Regions from separate parts of the Homo sapiens genome. Here region 1 is linked to region 2. The links come from fine-mapping of genetic effects on gene expression. A gene starts in region 2. The other region holds a variant in brackets. All regions are shown on one strand. Distances are between the middles of the regions.

Region 1 (9,425 bases), 38 kb before region 2:
GGCACCTGTAATCCCAGCTACTCAGGAGGCTGAGGTAGGAGAATTGCTTAAACCCAGGAGGCAGAGGTTGCAGTGAGCCGAGAATGCACCATTGCACTCCAGCCTGGGCCACAGAGCAAGTGAAACTCCATTTTAGAATAAATAAATAAAAATAAATAGTAAAATAATAATAAACCTTAATCTAATAAAAGACATATAGTTCCACTTCCAGCTAAGATGATGATGGTCAAGAAAGAACACATTTGTGCTGTAACAATGACAGAATGGAATAAACAACAACAACCAGAGCATCATATTTTTGCTTGAAGCTATCAAAAAATTGTAAATTCAAGAAGTCTAAATAAAATAAATTCCAGAATGAGATGAGCCCTTAAGTGCTGATTCATACCTGCAGCATGGGAGACATGAAGAAGTAAGACTCTACAGGCAGATAAAATTTGCTAGAAAAGAAAAACAACTACATTTGGGCTGGTATGGAGGACTGAAATCTGGAAGAGTCTCCAATATAGAGCTAGTCCTCCCTACCCACCAAATGTCTCCAGTGAACTACTATGGAAGCAGTGATGTGGAAGTGGGGGAAGAGCTGGAAAACAGAGAAAGAGCTCTGTAATCTCAGTGGTTAGGTCCCAAAGACTTGATGGAGGGAGGGGCCTGATCCTGCTGATCCTGATCCCAAGACACTGCAACTACTGGTGAACTAAAACTAACTAGTACTGATCCAACCCCTGATTAAACAAAAAAAAACCCGGCCAGCCGCCCCGTCCGGGAGGGAGGTGGGGGGTCAGCCCCCGCCCGGCCAGCCGCCCCGTCTGGGAGGGAGGTGGGGGGTGCCTCTGCCCGGCCGCCCCTTCTGGGAAGTGAGGAGCCCCTCTGCCCGGCCACCACCCCATCTGGGAGGTGTACCCAACAGCTCATTGAGAACGGGCCATGATGACGATGGCGGTTTTGTGGAATAGAAAAGGGGGAAAGGTGGGGAAAAGATTGAGAAATCGGATGGTTGCTGTGTCTGTGTAGAAAGAAGTAGACATGGGAGACTTTTCATTTTGTTCTGTACTAAGAAAAATTCTTCTGCCTTGGGATCCTGTTGATCTATGACCTTACCCCCAACCCTGTGCTCTCTGAAACATGTGCTGTGTCCACTCAGGGTTAAATGGATTAAGGGCGGTGCAAGATGTGCTTTGTTAAACAGATGCTTGAAGGCAGCATGCTCGTTAAGAGTCATCACCACTCCCTAATCTCAAGTACCCAGGGACACAAACACTGCGGAAGGCCGCAGGGTCCTCTGCCTAGGAAAACCAGAGACCTTTGTTCACTTGTTTATCTGCTGACCTTCCCTCCACTATTGTCCTATGACCCTGCCAAATCCCCCTCTGCGAGAAACACCCAAGAATGATCAATAAAAAAAAAAAAGAAAGAAAATTATCAAATCTTTATTATTTTAATTCTTTAGTAAAATAAAGGAAGTATGCCTTAATAGGCCTAAACTGTGGGTGTTCTCATTAAAGAGGTACACTGTAGAGTCCCAAAATAGTCCTCTTTAGAAATATTTTAACATTTTAAGCCCTAATTAAAAGAATAAAGTACATATTTCAAGAACAAACTAGTTCTGAGTCAAAAAATAAACCTCCCTGACAAAATATATAGATCATGTTGTGGATATAACATAACAATTGCTAAAAATACATTTTTTAGATTCCTGTTAAGCCCAGTGATAAAAGTTACTATACAAAAAATTAGAAAAGACAAAATGAAGAAAGTAAAAACCAACCCTAGTTACACCAGAGTTACACTGTTAGTATGCTGTTATATAGGCTTCTAGACTTTTTTTTACTTATTTTGTTACTTATTTAAATTGACAATAAAAATTGCACATATTTATCCTATACAACATGTTTTGAAATATGTATATATTGTGGAATGACTAAATTGAGCTAATTAACTTATGCATTACTTCACATACTTATCTTTTGTGGTGAGAACACCTAAAATCTCTTGGCAATTTTGACGAATACAATACACTGTTATAAACTATCATCACCATGTTGTACAATAAATCTCTTGAATATGTTCCTGTACCCTAACCAAAATTTTTAATCCACTGACCGACATCTCCGCAACCCAGCTTTTTTACTATATACATTTTTAAAAATAAAAATTAAATGATAAAAGTAAAAAAAAAAAAAAAAAAAAAACAAAAAAAAACCACCACCTCACCCGCACTTCCTGATAGAAGGGCAAGCCTTTTCTGCAGGTAAACATTAGCTATTTATTTAACAACTGCATGTGAATCTACAATTATCTCAAAAGTAAAAGGTTTAAAAATTAGCCACTTTAGTCAACACCGTACTTTTAAACACAACGTACAGCATTCAAACAAAATTAAATAGCATTTTAAGAAGCAGGAAATGGCAGTAAAATAGTAAATAAAAGCAGACTCTGAGATGAATTAGCAGATAGGAGCTTTATAATAATTATAAAGATGATATAAAGTCAGAGGAAGAGATGGACAAAATGGTTAAAATATGAAAAATTTCAGCAGAGACATAAGAAAGTATAAGAGAATGAAATGGAAATTCTAGAAATAGAAAAAATATAATATCCAAAATGAATTTGTTAGATGGACTTAATAGCAGACTGTCTACAGCAGAAACATGAATAAAAAGAGGTGTGATAGAAATTGTCCATCTGAAGTCCGGGCACAGTGACTCATGCCTGTAATCCCAGCACTTTGGGAGGCTGAGGCAGGCGGATCACCTGAGGTCAGGAGTTCAAGACCAGCCTGCCTAACATGGTGAAACCCCATCTCTACTAAAAATACAAAAAATTAGCCAGATGTGGTGGCGCTTGCCTGTAGTCCCAGCAACTCAGGAGGCTGAGGCAGGAGAAGCGCTTGAGCCCAGCAGGTGGAGGTTGGAGTGAGCCGAGATCATGCCACTGCACTCCAGCCTGGGCAACAGAGCAAGACTCTGTCTCAAAAAAACAAAACATAACAAAACAAAACAAAAAATGAACTTGTCCAACTGAAGCAGGGAGAGAGAGAAAAAAAAAAAAGAATAGAAAATCAAAGTCCTATGGGACAACAGCAGATGTGTAACTGAAGTCCAGAGGAAAGGAAAGAGGGAATAGGGAAAAATAAATATTTGAAGAAATAATGGCTAAGAATTTTCCAAAATTGATGGAAGACATTAACCCACAGATCCAAGAAGCTCAGTGAATCACAAAGGGGATACATACAAAATAATAATTAAAAAACCCTTACTTAGGTATATCATAATCAAACTGCTGAAAATCAAAGATTAATAGAAAAATCTTAAATCAGCCAGAGAAGAAAACCCCATTACATTCAGGAGAATAACATTAAGAATGACAGTTAATTTCTTATCTGAAACATTAGAAGTCAAGAAAACAATGAAATGACATTTTCAGAGTGCTGAAAGTAAAAAGTGCCAACCTAGAATTCCACAGCAGAAAACATTATTTTAATATGAAGTAAAATAAATACATTTTCAGACAAAGTAAAACTTAAGAGAATCCACTTTTTATAGATGTTCTACATTCCTTCCTGAAGCTCTGACTTTCCATCTGGTATGATTTTCCCTTTAGCCCGGAAGACATCCTTTAGTCATTCTTGTAGTGCAAGCATGTTCGTAAAAAATTCAAGTGTATAATATTAGTGCAAACCAGACTTTTCAAATTAAGGATTTCAATTTAAAAATCAATTAAAAAGTGTATACCTTAAAAAGCCAACAGAGGAGATAAAATGGAATACTAGACATTGCTCAGTTAATCCAAAAATAAGACAGGAAAAGAATAAGAAAGAAAAAAGAACATATAGAACAAAAGAAAAGAAAAAGAAAAATTGATATGTAATCCATTTTGTAAATGGATGGATTAAAAAAATAAAAAATAAATGGATAGATTCAATTAAATCCAATCATTTCAATAATTACATTAAATGTAAATGGACCCTTCCCTTTAAAAATATTTATTGCCTGTCTACCTTCCTACCTTTCTTTTTTCTTCTTCCTTCTCTAAAAAGCCATTAAATAGGCAAACAGAAGTGGCTCAAGGGCCACATGTAAGTACATAACCAGAGTGGGGCAGATTCAAGAGGCTGCTGGAGAGACGACACAGAGACAACACAGGTAAGGGTAAGCAGAGAAGCCAAAATGGGGCTTGCATGTCAAGGAGGCAGCAATCTGGAGGGGTCAGAAGAATCAACTTTGTCACTGTTAGGATAAGATACAAATATGGGAAGGAAGAAAGCCAGAATGAACCCCATGGTGTTGGACTGGAAGTAGAGTGTATAGGGTTGAACTCATGTTTTTCAACACATGGAGAAGTAGACAGACAGACAAATAGAAAGGTAACGTGTGTATTGATACAGACATATATATATTTGGATATGTATATATATATCCTAATATTTCCCAGCTCAGCCCACTGAAAGGGGTTGTTATATATCCTTACATATTCCCAGCTCAGCCCACTGAAAGGGGCTGGGAACAGCATCATCCCAGTAGCAATGAGCATCCAGAGAGAGCATCCAAACATCTCTCCCACTCAGAGAAGTCAGGGCCCCTTGGATAAATGGAAGATTACAAGGCTGATCCAAGGAAAAAACAAGATGAGCCTGAAACTTTTTTTATACTAGAAGCTATGGAAATGCTCAAGGAATGATGGAAGATATGTCAAAAGGACGAGGGGCCAGTTTGAAGGACCACTCACTGATGCAGAAAAAGATGAAAATTACTATCTTTTTAGAAATGAAAGATATGTTATGTAAATAAAGTTAACATGTAGCATTCTGAAATGCATAAATTAGAAGTTAATACAGGATAGGAATAAATGAGCTAAAATTTCAACTTAAAAATACAGAAAAAGAAAAAATTCATAAAGTAGAAGGAAAGCATTTAAAAAGATAAAATTAGAAATTAATAAAAGGGAGCACAAAACAAAATATTAACATTGCTTAATAAAATATACCAACCTTTAGCTAACATGCTCAAGGGAAAAAAAATACACAAACAAGAATGAACTAGGGACAAGGGTATAGGGCATAGAATGAGATGGTGAAAGTGGAGGTTACAATCCCAGCACTTTGGAGGCCAAGATGAGTGGATCACGTGAGGTCAAGAGTTTGAGACCAGCCTAGGCAACATGGCGAAACCCCGTCTCTACAAAAATACAAAAATTAGCCAGGTGGTATGGCGCGCACCTGTAATCCCAGCTACTCAGGTGGCTGAGGTGCAAGAATCGCTTGAACCCGGGAGGCGAAGGTTGCAGTGAGCTGAGATTGTACCACTGCACTCCAGCCTGGGTGACAGAGTGAGACTCTGTCTCAAAACAAGAACAAAAACAAAAACAAAACAAAACAAGAAATAATCTTAATGTCCTTCAACTAGGGCTATAAAATAATTTATCAGACCTCATGCCAGTCATTAGAAAACAAAAAGGTAGACCTGTACATACTGTTATGGAAAGCAAGTCTCAGAATAACACATAGAATGTAATAGCATTTCTGTTAAATATATACACACACACACGTGTCAGGTCGAACCATATGAAATTGCCATTTTTGTAAATCAAAACTTCTTCAATATTGGCAATTCCGTATGATTCAATCTAACACAGAAACTCACAGGAAGGAAGTCACAGTCTGGAAAG[AAGGAAAGG/G]AGTCTGGGAGGCAAATGAAGGGGGCATTTGCTTCTTATTCCATATTTCTGTTTTGCATGAATCTTTTGTGATAAAAAGACATCCATTCGTTATGTATTTTAAAACAAATAGTTGTTTTTAAGACCTGCTGCTTTCCATCCAGCCCCTTGGCTCTGTCCAGAAGAAGACATTCAGCCCCCACCTCTCAGCTTCTCCCATCTTCATCGCTGGCCGTGAAGACAGTGTCTGGGAAGAGAGAAGGACTGCCATCCTCCTGGGGAAATAATTCAAGCTATGGAAGATGCTCTAGTGTGATTCCACGTTGGAAAACCAAGAACAATGGCCAGGCACGGTGGCTCACACTTGCAATCCCAGCACTTTGGGAGGCCGAGGCAGGTGGATCATTTGAGGTCAGAAGTTCGAGACCAGCTTGGCCAACACGGTGAAACCCCGTCTCTACTAAAAATACAAAACTAGCTGGGCGTGGTGGTGTGCACCTGTAGTCCCAGTTACTTAGGAGACTGAGGCAGGAGGATCACTTGAACCCGGGAGGCGGAGGTTGTAGTGAGCCAAGATCACACCACTGCACTCCAGTCTGGGCAACAGGAGTGAAACCCTGTCTCCAGAAAAACAAAACAAAACAAAACAAAGAAAACAAACAAACAAAAAAAACAAGAACACCCTCAGTGCCCAAATGCAGGAAAAGTAACCTGGCCATCATACGCAGCACCACAAAGATGACTTCTGACAAACTTTGGTTCTTGTATACACCCTTTGCATATAAGGTACAAAGGAACAAAACTATGGCTGTATGGAAATAAGCTCATAAAGGAGACTGGGAGAAAATGTCCCTAAATGATACCAGTGGTTGGAGAGAGGGGATGGGATTATGAGTCATTTTCCTTTATTTTTTTGAGACATGGTCTCGCTCTGTCGCCCAGGCTAGAGTGAAGTGGTGCAATCACAGCTCATTGCAGCCTTGACCTCCCAGGCTCCAGCGATCCCCCCGGCCTCCTGCCACCCCTGCCACCCCACCCCCAGTAGCTGGGACCACAAGCACATGCCACTATACTGGGATATTTATAATTATTATTATTTGTGAAGATATGGTCTCTCTGTTGCCAGTCTCAAACTCCTGGGCTCAAGTGATCCTCCCGCCTCCACCTCCCAAAGTGCTGGGATTACAGGTGTGAGCACCAGGCCCATTTTCTTTATTTTTCAAACTTGTTATTACAAGATTTGACTGTTTTTACAATCAACCTAAACAACATGAAACACACTGAAATATAAACTGAAAACTATGGCTTATTAGCCCTGCCCAGCTGGTTTCTATCATGTCTGATGGTGTCTATAAACATCAAGAGGGCGATTGTTCCTTAAAAAAAGCAGGTTCAGCCAGTGGTTGAGAATCCAGCATCTGGAGCCAGACTGGCTTGGTTCAGATCCCAGCTCTGCCAGCCCTGACCAAGTTATTTAACCACTGCAAGATTTGGTTTCCTCGGTTGTGAAGTGGGAATCATATCAGTACCTACTTCAGCGGTACTGTTGTTAATAAAGATTAATTGCTAAGGAACTGGGCCGGGCACACACTCAGTGCCCAACAAATGCTGGCAGCTGTTAGTATCACAATAATCATTTTTATTCAAAGTGCCTCTTTATTGCCCTTAGACACTATTAAAGCCAAATGAGATGATGTCTGGGCAAGAACGAAAGAGCTGGCCAGTCCACACAGCAGCCTGGAGAATGAGTCCTCACGTGCGTGCAACCTCTGTTGGTTCCAAGTATGTCTATTTAAGTGATCACTCAGCAGAGCGGCAAGACAGGTCTGATTCTGCATTTAAGCTTGCTAAGAGGATAAGTAACTCTATGCTGTTTTGCACAAGAAATGCCTTAGAGGCTGGGAATAATGCCACAATCCCATCAGCTCCTCCTGAGCCCATGGGGGCCTTTTGCCCTAACTGCTTCTCCCTGTATGCTGGGCTGTTCCGTTCCCTGGGGTTCTCTTCTGACAGCCGGAGGACCCCTGCCAGGCACTCCACCAACTCCAGCACCAACCCTGCCCTGCTCACCCAGTCTCATTTTCAGGGAACTTGGAAGTCTTTGCAGACCTTTAGGAAACGTCTTTTTACACTTAGGGTGGTGGGATGAGGGCAATCAGAATGCTCATGGTGGTCATTTTACACATGTTAAAATCTTGTATTGACCTAGAACACACATCCTGAAAAATGCACACATCATAAGCCTATAATGTTCATAAATTTTTAAAAACTAAACACACCCATGGAACATGAAACAGAACATTGACAGCACCCCACAGGCCCCTTCTGAAAGGTAACTACTAATTATCCCGACTTCCAACAATAGTAAATAGTTTCATCTGCTTTTTTTATTTTTTTTGAGACAGGGTCTCATGGCTCACTGCAGCCTCAACCTCCTAGGCTTAAGCGATCCTCCCACCTCAGTCTCCTGAGTAGCTGGGACTACAGGCATGTGCCACCACGCCTGGCTAATTTTCGTATTTTTTGTAGAGAAGGGGTTTCACCATTATCGGGGAACCTGCCCCGATAATCACGTAGGTTCTTTTCCATTTTTCCTAAGCATCGGCTGGCTTGAGAAACAAAGGGACAGAGTACAAAAGAGAGAAATTTTAAAGCTGGGTGTCTGGGGGAGACATCCCACGTTGGTAGGATCCGTGATGCCCCACAAGCCACAAAAACCAGCAAGTTTTTATTAGGGATTTTCAAAAGGGGAGGGAGTGTGCGAATAGGTGTGGGTGACAGACATCAAGTACTTAACAGGATAATAGAATATCACAAGGCAAGTGGAGGCAGGGTGAGATCACAGGACCACAGGACCGAGGTGAAATTAAAATTGCTAATGAAGTTTCGGGCACCATTGTCATTGGTAACATCTTATCAGGAGACAGGGTTTTGGGATCAACCAGTCTGACCAAAATTTATTAGGTGGGAATTTCCTCTTCCTAATAAGCCTGGGAGCACTATGGGAGACTGGAGTTTATTTCATCTCTGCAGCCTCAACCATAAGAGACAGGCTACGCCCAGGGGGGCCAGTTCAGAGACCTACCCGCAGGCGCACATTCTCTTTTTCAGGGATGTTCCATGCTGAGAAAAAGAATTCAGCGATATTTTTCCCATTTGCTTTTGAAGGAAGAGAAACATGGTTCTGTTCTGCCCAGCTCACCAGCAGTCAGAGTTTAAGGTTATCTCTCTTATTCCCTGAACAATTGCTGTTATCCTGTTCTTTTTTCAAGGTGCCCACACTTCACATTGCTCAAACACACATGCTGTACAATTTGTGCAGTTAATGCAATTATTACAGGGTCCTGAGGCGATATATCCTCCTCAGCTGACAGGATCAAGAGATTAAAGTAAAGACAGGCATAGGAAATCACAAGGGTATTGATTGGGGAAGTGATAAGTGTCCATGAAATCTTTACAATTTATGTTTAGAGATTGCAGTAAAGACAGGTGTAAGAAATTATAAAAGTATTAATTTGGGGAACTAATAAATGTCCATGAAATCTTCACAATCCACATTCTTCTGCCATGGCTTCAGCCAGTCCCTCCGTTTGGGGTCCCTGACTTCCCGCAACACACCATGTTGCCCAGTCTGGTCTCGAACTCCTGGACTCAAGCAATCCACCTGCCTCGGCCTCCCAAAATGTGGAGATTACAGGTGTGAGCCACTGTGCCTGGCCTGTAGTGCCATCTGCTTTTGAATTTGATGTACAGAGACCCCTGCCATATGTA
Region 2 (9,425 bases):
AAAGAAAAAAAAAGACTTTTCACTGTATACTTTTCATTGAGTTACATATTAAGTGCAATGTAATGCCTGTTAACAATATAAAATTTTTTTTCTTAAAATCACCACTTTGGAAGAGAATTCCTTAAGAAGTTAAACATATACCTGCCGTATAACTCAGCCACTGTACTCCTGGTATGTCATTTCCAAGAAAAATGAAATCATATGTCCACGAAAAGACTTGTATGTGACTCTCATAGCCCTTTGCTTATAACAACAGAAAAGAGAAACAACCCCAATATCCCTCATCAGGTGAAACCAATTGTAGTCCATCCATACAACATCATACAATGAAATACTACTCGGCAATAATAGGAACCAACTATTGCCACATGTAGCAACATGGATGAATCTCAAAACTGTGATGTAAAATTTTAAAGGTTTTAAAAAAGCATACATAATTATGATTCCATCTATACAAAATTCTAGAAAATACAAACTAGTGATAGAAAACACATCAGCGGTTGCCAGTGGGTAGGGGTATGGGGAAGGAGGCATCGCTTGCAAAGAGGCAGGAGGAAATTTTTAGGACATGGAAATACTCATTGTCTTATTTTGGTGATAGTTTCATGAAAGAATACAGATATTAAAGCTTTTAACTGTATACTCCAAATATGCACAGTATTGTACATCAGTTATACCTTAATAAAGTTGTAAAAAGAAAACCCACAATGCAATTGAGGTGATGGGGAAGGAATGAACTAAATCTATAGGCATCTGGTTTAAAATATCTTGAAAATATAATGGAAAAAAGCAATACCATATTTTGGTTATGGACACCTTTTTTTAAATGTCCAGTGGAGAGGACTGACTTATTAAGTGGAAGAGAGAGTGAGGGAGAGGAAATTTTAAAATTTTGAAAGACTAGAAGTCATATAGGGTATGTTCTCAGACCACAATGAAATTAAACTAGAAATCAATAACAGAAAACTGGAAAATCTGGAGATTAAACAACACACTTCCAGACTTCCTTTTTTTTTTTTTTTTTTTTTTTTTTTTGAGACAGGCTCTCCCTCTGTTGTCCAGGCTGGAGTGCAGTGGCGCGATCTTGGCTCACCGAAACCTCCCTCTCCACAGTTCAAGCAATTCTCCTGCCTCAGCCTCCCAGCTAGCTAGGATTACAGGCGTGCAGCATACACGGTGCCTGTCACCATGCCTGCCACCACGTCCAGCTAATTTTTTTGTATTTTTAGTAGAAACAGGGTTTCACCATGTTGGCCAGGCTGGTCTCAAACTCCGGACCTTAAGTGTTCTGCCTGCTTCAGCCTCCCAAAGTGCTGGGATTACAGGTGTGAGCCACTGTACCCAGCCTAAAAACATTCTTCTAAATAACCCATGAGTCAAAGAAGTCTCAAGAGAACTAAAAAATATTTTGAACGAAAAAAAATGAAACTATAACTTATCAAAATGTATGGGATGCTGCTAAGGCATCCCATAAAAAGCATTTGTGTTTACAGAGAAATTTATAGCATTAAATGCATATATTAGAAAAGAAGGTCTTAAATCAATCCTCTAAGTTTCCACTTGAGGAAACTAGGGAAAAAAGAGCAATTTAAACCTAAAGCAAGCAGAAGAAACTAAGTAATAAAAATTAGAGCACAACTTGAAGAAAACAACAGGGGAAAATCAACAAAACCAAAAGTTGAACTTTGAAAAGATCAATACAATTGATAAACCTCTAGCCAGGATAACCAAAGAAAAAAAGAGAGAAGACAAATTACCAATATCAGAAATGACCAACAGCAAGAGATCATCATTACTGGTCCCACAGATGTCATAAGGAGGATAAAGGAATATTATGAACAACACTATGGCCACACATTTGATGGCTTAGTTGAAAAGACCAATTCCTTGAAACATACCAACTACCCAAAGGCAAACATGCAAGGCCTGCAATAATAAAAAATGTGAGAAAGCAAGATGGCTTCTAACCTCGGCTCCATGGGGCCGCATTAGCTGGGGGCAAAGAGTTGGCAACACAATGTGATGGGTAATGAGAGGTGCACAAAGGGTCAGCTGGGAAGGCTTCAAAGAGGAAGTGTGTCTAAAACAGACAGGGAAGGACACTTTTACCAGGCCCTCACGAGGGTGCCTCAAAACCAGCAAGTCCACAGTGTTACGGACTGAATTGTGCCCCCTCTGCCCCTAAAACTCATATGCTGAAATCCTAACCCCGAGGGCCTTGGATTGTGATTATTTGGAGACAGGGCCTTTAAAAAGGCAATTAAGTTAAAATGAAGTCATTAGAATGGGCCTTAATCCAGTATGACTCATGTCCTTATAAGAAGATTAGGATACAGATGACAGAGACACCAAGCACTCCTGCACCGAGTGACCACCATGTGAAGACACAGCAAGAGAGTGGTCACCTGCAAGCCAAGGAGAGAGGTCCCAGAGGAGACCAATCTTCCCAGCACTTTGATTTTAGACTCCTAACGGCCAGATGTGTGAGAATATAAATTTCCGCTCTTTAACCCACCCAGTCTATGGTACCTTGTTATGGCAGCCCAAGCTGAACTCATGATCTTTCTCTCCAAAACTCATTCTTTCCCACAGTCCAACATCCACTCTGAAGGACAGCCAGAAATCCCACCCTTACATCTCACATTCAATTTTGTAACAGGACCTGTCCATTTTACTACTCAGCTCTCTCCTATCCATCATTTCATACCTGAATGACCAGCAAAAACCTCTTTAATAGTTCCCCACGTCCATTCCAGCAATGCTCCGAATCTGTTCTCCCAATGCCCCCAGAGAGATATTTTCAAAACAAAAATACAACCTGTCATTCATACCTCACCCATACCCCTACCCCTTATGGCCCTTAGTGGCTGACCATAGCTTTTAGAATAAAGACAAACTCTATACCATGGCCTATGGAGCTCTGACCAGCCTCCGCCTCTCTCTGCTCCCCAGCATCATTGGCTTTCTTCAATTGCATGAAGGAATGAACCATGCTCTTTCTTGCCACAGGGCCCTCGCACATGTTGTTCCTTCTGCCTGGAATGCTCTTCCATCACCTGGCCAACTTCCCTTCCATCGCTTGGCTAACTTCACTCACTCTGATCTCTAGCTTAAGCACCACTTCCCTAGAGACGCTCTGGGACTTCCCCTCCCAAGTCTGAGTCACATTCCTTTATAATAAGCACTTGGAGAAGTGAGTTCCTTTCCTTCAGAGGCCTTCTCAGAGTTTATAATGAAACACTCTTTTGTGAGATTCTTTGTTTGATACCAGTCTCCACTACTCAGTGGGAAGCTCTGGGAGAGCTTTCTCTTTTTGTTTCGCCATCAGGTCCTAGCACCTGGCACAAAGTAGGTCTCAACTGATGCTTACTTCATGAATGGATGAATGGAATTAGGAAGAAATGGGGGAGATGGCACTCTAGGTATAGGAAAAAAAGATGCTTGAAAGGTCTGCCGAGACCACCACTCCTGTATTTGGCAAAGCCTCAACAGTGCGGTCTGCGAATACAAAAGTTTGCGGGAGGACCCCAAAACCAACACCCCCATCACACACACATGCACATCAAGTACATACCCAAATTCTGGAAGATCTCTGTCAAAATGCACACTTTCCTCATAGAAGACATTCAACTCTGCATCAACAGCAACAACCTTTACCTGAAAGGCATTTTAAAAAAGGAAGTGTAGAATTTTCCTCAGCTTCTACACTGGTCCAGGGGGTACTAACGTCACCAGATGAGGCCCCACACCCTAGGAGCAGTTCAACCTAGAGACCTCCTTGAAGGCAGGGCTGCCTCACCGTAATCGTGGTAACAGAGGACTCATCTGGGGTAACACTCAAAGATTTAGTAAAATGAAGAAACTGAGGCTAAGTAGGAACACCCACATGTCTCAAGGAATCTTTGTTCCCCAAATAGCCAAAGCCAAGACCCTCTAGAGGAAGATGTTCACAGATGAGTTGGTTCGTGCACCTGACAAGGAGGCGGGAGAAAGTGCCAGAGAGGAAGGAATGGGAAGCAAGGTTTGGAGGCATCTCTGGGGATCCATGTCTGCAGAGGCCTGAGACCAGGCAAGGCCATGGGCTATTCTCACAGGCCATGATTGTGGTCCAGAGACATTAATGTCCCACTGAAGCAATCTCCAAGCTTGGGAGTATAACTCCTTTCCTGGACAGATGGGAAAACTGAGGTCCAGCAAGGCAACTCGAGTCATCCAGAGTCCCACAGGACGTTCCCCCAAGGACTGGCCAGAGGCCTGCCTCCCTTGACCCATTCGAGAAGAGGGGTTTGACTGCAACTGTGTATATTTCCCAAGTACTTTAAAGGAAAAGGTGCCCCCGGTCACCCCATGCCCTCTTTGAAGGCAAATTTTGATTTGCTTGCCTGTCTGCAGGGCGTTGGCAGCAGCACACTGCTCCTCTGGCCAGCAGTCCTGGGTGCACAGACCAGGCAAGCTGGTGTCAACGAAGGGCGGTCACAGGGTAAAGTCCACTTGTACACTATGCATTTCACTTTTTTCTTTTTTTTTTTTTGAGACAGGGTCCCGTTCTGTCGCCCAGGCTGGAGACCGGTGACGCCATCTTAGCTCACTGCAATCTCCACCTCCTGGGCTCAAGCGATCCGCTTCAGCCTCCAGAAAAACTGGGACTACAGGTGTGCTCCACCATGCCCGGCTAATTTTTGTATTTTCTGGTAGAGACCGGGGTTTCTCCATATTGCCCAGGCTGGTCTCGAACTCCTGGGCTCAAGCGATCCACTCGCCTCGGCCTCCCAAAGTGCTGGGATTACCGGCAAGAGCCACCAGGCCTGGGCCATTTCAATTTTTAAAAAAAGGTTTTGGGCTATAATCTGCTTCCAGGTCACTGGTTGTGCATGTGCGCAGGGCTACCCGCCTGTCTGTTCCCCTGCCTTACAGTAGCTGACTTCCTTCGGATCCCCGTCACTGGGTGCCCAGAACAGCGCAGGAACCCGCCGAGTCCTCCGGCCCCTCTGGGCACCGGGGGTCCTGCCGAGGAGCGCCTGCAGTTTCCTGGGGTAGCTGGGTCCAGGCGGGGTCGAGGCCGCATCTTGCGAGCGGGTGGCATTGGCAGGGCATCTCCGGGCGAGGGCACCGGCGCCCCACGGCCGCGCGCAGGGCAGGGGCGCGGGGGCCCCGGGAAGCCCGAGAGGTAGGCGCGCCCGCGGCCGGGCCCATGTTTTCCCGCGTCCGGGTGACAGCCCGCCCCCTACCCCCACCGAAGCGGAGGAGGCGGCCCCGTGGCCCTGCGGCCAGGCGACTGTACCTGCTGCGTGCTGAAGTCCCAGCCCAGGCAGCAGCGGCGAGGGGCGTGCTCCGCCATGGCCTTTCGGGTAAGGCTGCGCGTCCGTCAGTCCGTCCGTCCGCCACGCGGCGTGATAGTCGCCGCGCTCCAGCGCCCAGAGACGCAGGGGCCCGCCCCTAGCTCCGCCCGGCCGGACTGTGGACCGGAGTCACGAGGCGGGCTTGCGCTCTGGCGCCGCCTGCGGGGCTACGCGAGCCGGGACCGCGTCCTGTGCAATCGACGGTGCCCCCACGCAGCCCGCTTTCCTTCGAAGCGCACCCCCTCTGGTTCTCCCCATCTTCATCTTATGTCTTCATGGGCCGTGCCCTGACACCGCCTGGCTTCCCTTAGAGGACGCCTGGGCCAGAGGTTTCAGCTATAAGCCGGCTTGTCTTTCAGAGGGAGCCTGCCTGTCCTTCTGGAGGCCCTGGGCCTGCCGTCCTCTGTGGCTGTATCTTGGCACTGGAGCAGCTGTCCACCCATGGTGGTGACTCAGGGGCCACAGGGAAATGGGCCCTGGGGTTGGAAGCACTGAGTCCTGACAAGCCCTATCCAGATCCAGCAAATCTGAATGGTTCCCAGTGTGTCACATCCCACCTGTGTATTTAAACTCAGCGGCTCCTGATGCCCCCACGGGGAGACACTCCTTCCTGGAGTCAATTGGTATTGATGGTCTAATGTGTGCCAGGCATGGTAAAGGGGAATGAGAACCAGAGTCAGACCCACTCCTTTTATTCATGGAGCTGAGGGCGCCTGTCCCACCAGCTACATCCTTCCCGTCCCTAAGACTAACTGCTTTCCAGAATTCCTCCCCAAACCCAGCATGTGAGAGGCTCCTCCTACGAACTTCCCAGCCCACCAGTGCCCTTTTCATGCACTTGCAATGGTCTGTCTCCCTTGCTGAACTTGAGCTGCTTGGAGTCTACATGGGATCCTCTTCACTGCTAGAACAAGAAGGGGCCAACATACTTGTCCTCCAAGACATTCACAGCTTATTGGGGACTCAGCCCCTCCAGCAGTCACCACCTGTGACAATAGACAAATACTGGATACTAGCTAGATCAGAAACAATTATGCAACCTGCTGAGCACATTTAATCGTCACAATGATGCTGGGAAGTAGGTACTATTATCTCCACTTTTAAAAAATTTTAAATAAAGGTATCTAAGTATCTAATCTAATTAAGATTAGATTACTGCATTTTAATCTAATCTTAACTGCTTGATGACTTTTTTTTTTTTTTTTGACAGAGTTTCACTCCTGTCACCCAGGCTGGAGTGCAGTGGCGTGATCTCCGGTCACTGCAACCTCCACCTCCCTGGTTCAACTGATTCTTCTGCCTCAGCCTCCCATGTAGCTGGGATTACAGGCGCACACCACCGCACCCAGCTAATTTTTTTTTTTTTTTGAAACGGAGTTTCACTCTTGTTGCCCAGGCTGGAGTGCAATGGCGTGATTTCAGCTCATTGAAACCTCTGCCTTCTGGGTTCAAGTGATTCTCCTGCCTCAGCCTCCCGAGTAGCTGAGATTACAGGCATCCGCCACCACGCCCAGCTAATTTTGTATTTTTAGTAGAGACGAGGTTTCTCCATGTTTGTTAGGCTGGTCTTGAACTCCCGACCTCAGGTGTTCCGCCTGCCTCATCCTCTCAAAGTGCTGGGATTACAAGCGTGAGCCACTGCGTATGGCTCTAATTTTGTATTTTTAGTAGAGATGGGGTTTCACCATGTTGGTCAGGCTGGTCTCAAACTCCGACCTCATGTGATCCACCTGCCTCAGCCTCCCAAAGTGCTGGGATTACAGGCGTGAGTCACCGTGCCTGGCCAATGACTTTTTAAAAATGTATGTATATACCCATATAAACACTGAGATCAAAACAGAACATTTCCACCACTCCAGAAGTTTCCTTCATGACCCTTCCTAAACTCCCAAGGCAATCACTATTCTGATGTCTACCAGTATAAACTCACTTTGAACTTCGTATAACTTACCATCTTCATTTTACAGAGTGAGAAACTGAGGTGTAGAGAAGTTAGTTAACGTGGCCTAATGAAACTGCCATTGCAAAATTATAACTGAGACAGTGAAAGAGATCTGACTTAACCAATTCCATCTTGCTTCTAGCCTCCAAGCTGTCATTGCTTATTCATGGGCATAGGCAGAACTAACTTTGGGAGGAACTTACTTTATAGTTTAAAACAAAGATGATAACAGCTCTTTCCCAAAACAAATCTCCTTCTTGCCTGTGACTAGACTGCCTTTGTAGGACTAACAAATTAGCCACAAGATTAGAAATTAAGGTTTAGGAGTCATGCAGCTGGAGACTACAAGATTCTGACCATCACCAAATTGCTCCTGGGGATAACATCACTATTGTAAAACCTAAGATCAGTGCTTGAGATATTTTAGAGACCCTGCACTTGATGGATCAGCTGGTACCACCCAGCTCCATAAACTGGCTCATCTGATCTTGTGGCCCCCACCCAGGAACTGACTCAGCACAAGAAGATAGCTTCAAATTCCTATGAGTTCATTTCCGACCCAACCAATCAGCACTCCCAACTCACTGGCCTCCACCCACCCACCAAATTATTCTTAAAAACTCTGATTCCCAAATGCTCTGGGAGACTGATTTGAGTAATAATAAAACTCTGGTCTCCTACACAGCTGGCTCTGTGTGAATTACTCATTCTCTATTGCAGTCCCCCTGTCTTGATAAATTGGCTCTGTCTAGGCAGTGGGCAAGGTGAACCTGTCGGGTGGTTATACATCCTTTGCTCAGATCATTGGAACACTCCTTCTTTTGTACAGAATGAGGTGTTGTCCAATTCTAGAATCACAGATAAAATCCATTTAGGATCTTTAAATTTGTTGTAATTTTGTCTTTTGACAGCAGATGTCAGCTCCCAATAAGAGTGGGTTAGTTTGCACAGAAAGGGCTCAGAGTGGACAGATGAACCCACATAGGGAGCTGTGAAGGCTATCAAAGACACAGAAAGAGATCATGAGAGAGGTGTAATGGTGGAATTCACTAGACCGAGCTTGTCCAACCTGCAGCCCATGGGCTGCATGTGGCCCAGGATGGCTTTGAATGCAGCTCAACACAAATCAGTAAACTTTCTTAAAATATTATAAGATTTTGGGGTTTTCTAGATATACAATCATGTCGTCTGCAAACAGGGACAATTTGACTTCCTCTTTTCCTAATTGAATACCCTTCTCCTGCCTAATTGCCCTGGCCAGAACTTCCAACACTATGTTGAATAGGAGTGGTGAGAGAGGGCATCCCTGTCTTGTGCCAGTGTTCAAAGGGAATGCTTCCAGTTTTTGCCCATTCAGTATGATATTGGCTGTGGGTTTGTCATAGATAGCTCTTATTATTTTGAAATACGTCCCATCAATACCTAATTTATTGAGAGTTTTTAGCATGAAGGGTTGTTGAATTTTGTCAAAGGCCTTTTCTGCATCTATTGAGATAATCACGTGGTTTTTGTCTTTGGTTCTGTTTATATGCTGGATTACATTAATTGATTTGCATATATTGAACCAGCCTTGCATCCCAGGGATGAAGCCCACTTGATCATGGTGGATAAGCTTTTTGATGTGCTGCTGGATTCGGTTTGCCAGTATTGTCTCAGCCCAAAATCTCCTTAAGCTGATAAGCAACTTCAGCAAAGTCTCAGGATACAAAATCAATGTACAAAAATCACAAGCATTCTTATACACCAACAACAGACAAACAGAGAGCCAAATCATGAGTGAACTCCCATTCACAATTGCTTCAAAGAGAATAAAATACCTAGGAATCCAACTTACAAGGGATGTGAAGGACCTCTTCAAGGAGAACTACAAACCACTGCTCAAGGAAATAAAAGAGGATACAAACAAATGGAAGAACATTCCATGCTCATGGGTAGGAAGAATCAATATCATGAAAATGGCCATACTGTCCAAGGTAATTTATAGATTCAATGCCATCCCCATCAAGCTACCAATGACTTTCTTCACAGAATTGGAAAAAACTACTTTAAAGTTCATATGGAACCAAAAAAGAGCCCGCATCGCCAAGTCAATCCTAAGCCAAAAGAACAAAGCTGGAGGCATCACACTACCTGACTTCAAACTA

Evidence for each region. PIP is the estimated chance that this variant, and not a neighbour inherited with it, causes the effect.
Region 1: its variant is the best candidate, but not a certain one, in a credible set for the expression of XYLB in nasal epithelium (TOPMed, PIP 0.55).

The regions. Positions count from the first base shown.
Region 1 is chr3:38,380,937-38,390,361 of GRCh38, reverse strand. All of the region lies in intron 15 of XYLB (xylulokinase), which reads right to left. Among named protein-coding and RNA genes, the nearest start is that of XYLB, 39 kb to the right of the region's middle. The variant AAGGAAAGG/G (reference allele first, on the strand shown) is at 5,668.
Region 2 is chr3:38,342,782-38,352,206 of GRCh38, reverse strand. It overlaps XYLB (xylulokinase), which reads right to left and starts at 5,422. Exons shown (of 19, transcript NM_005108.4): 1 at 5,282-5,422; 2 at 3,575-3,657. The coding sequence starts at 5,338. RefSeq lists enhancers at 3,982-4,813, 4,814-5,645 and silencers at 4,946-5,005, 5,016-5,255.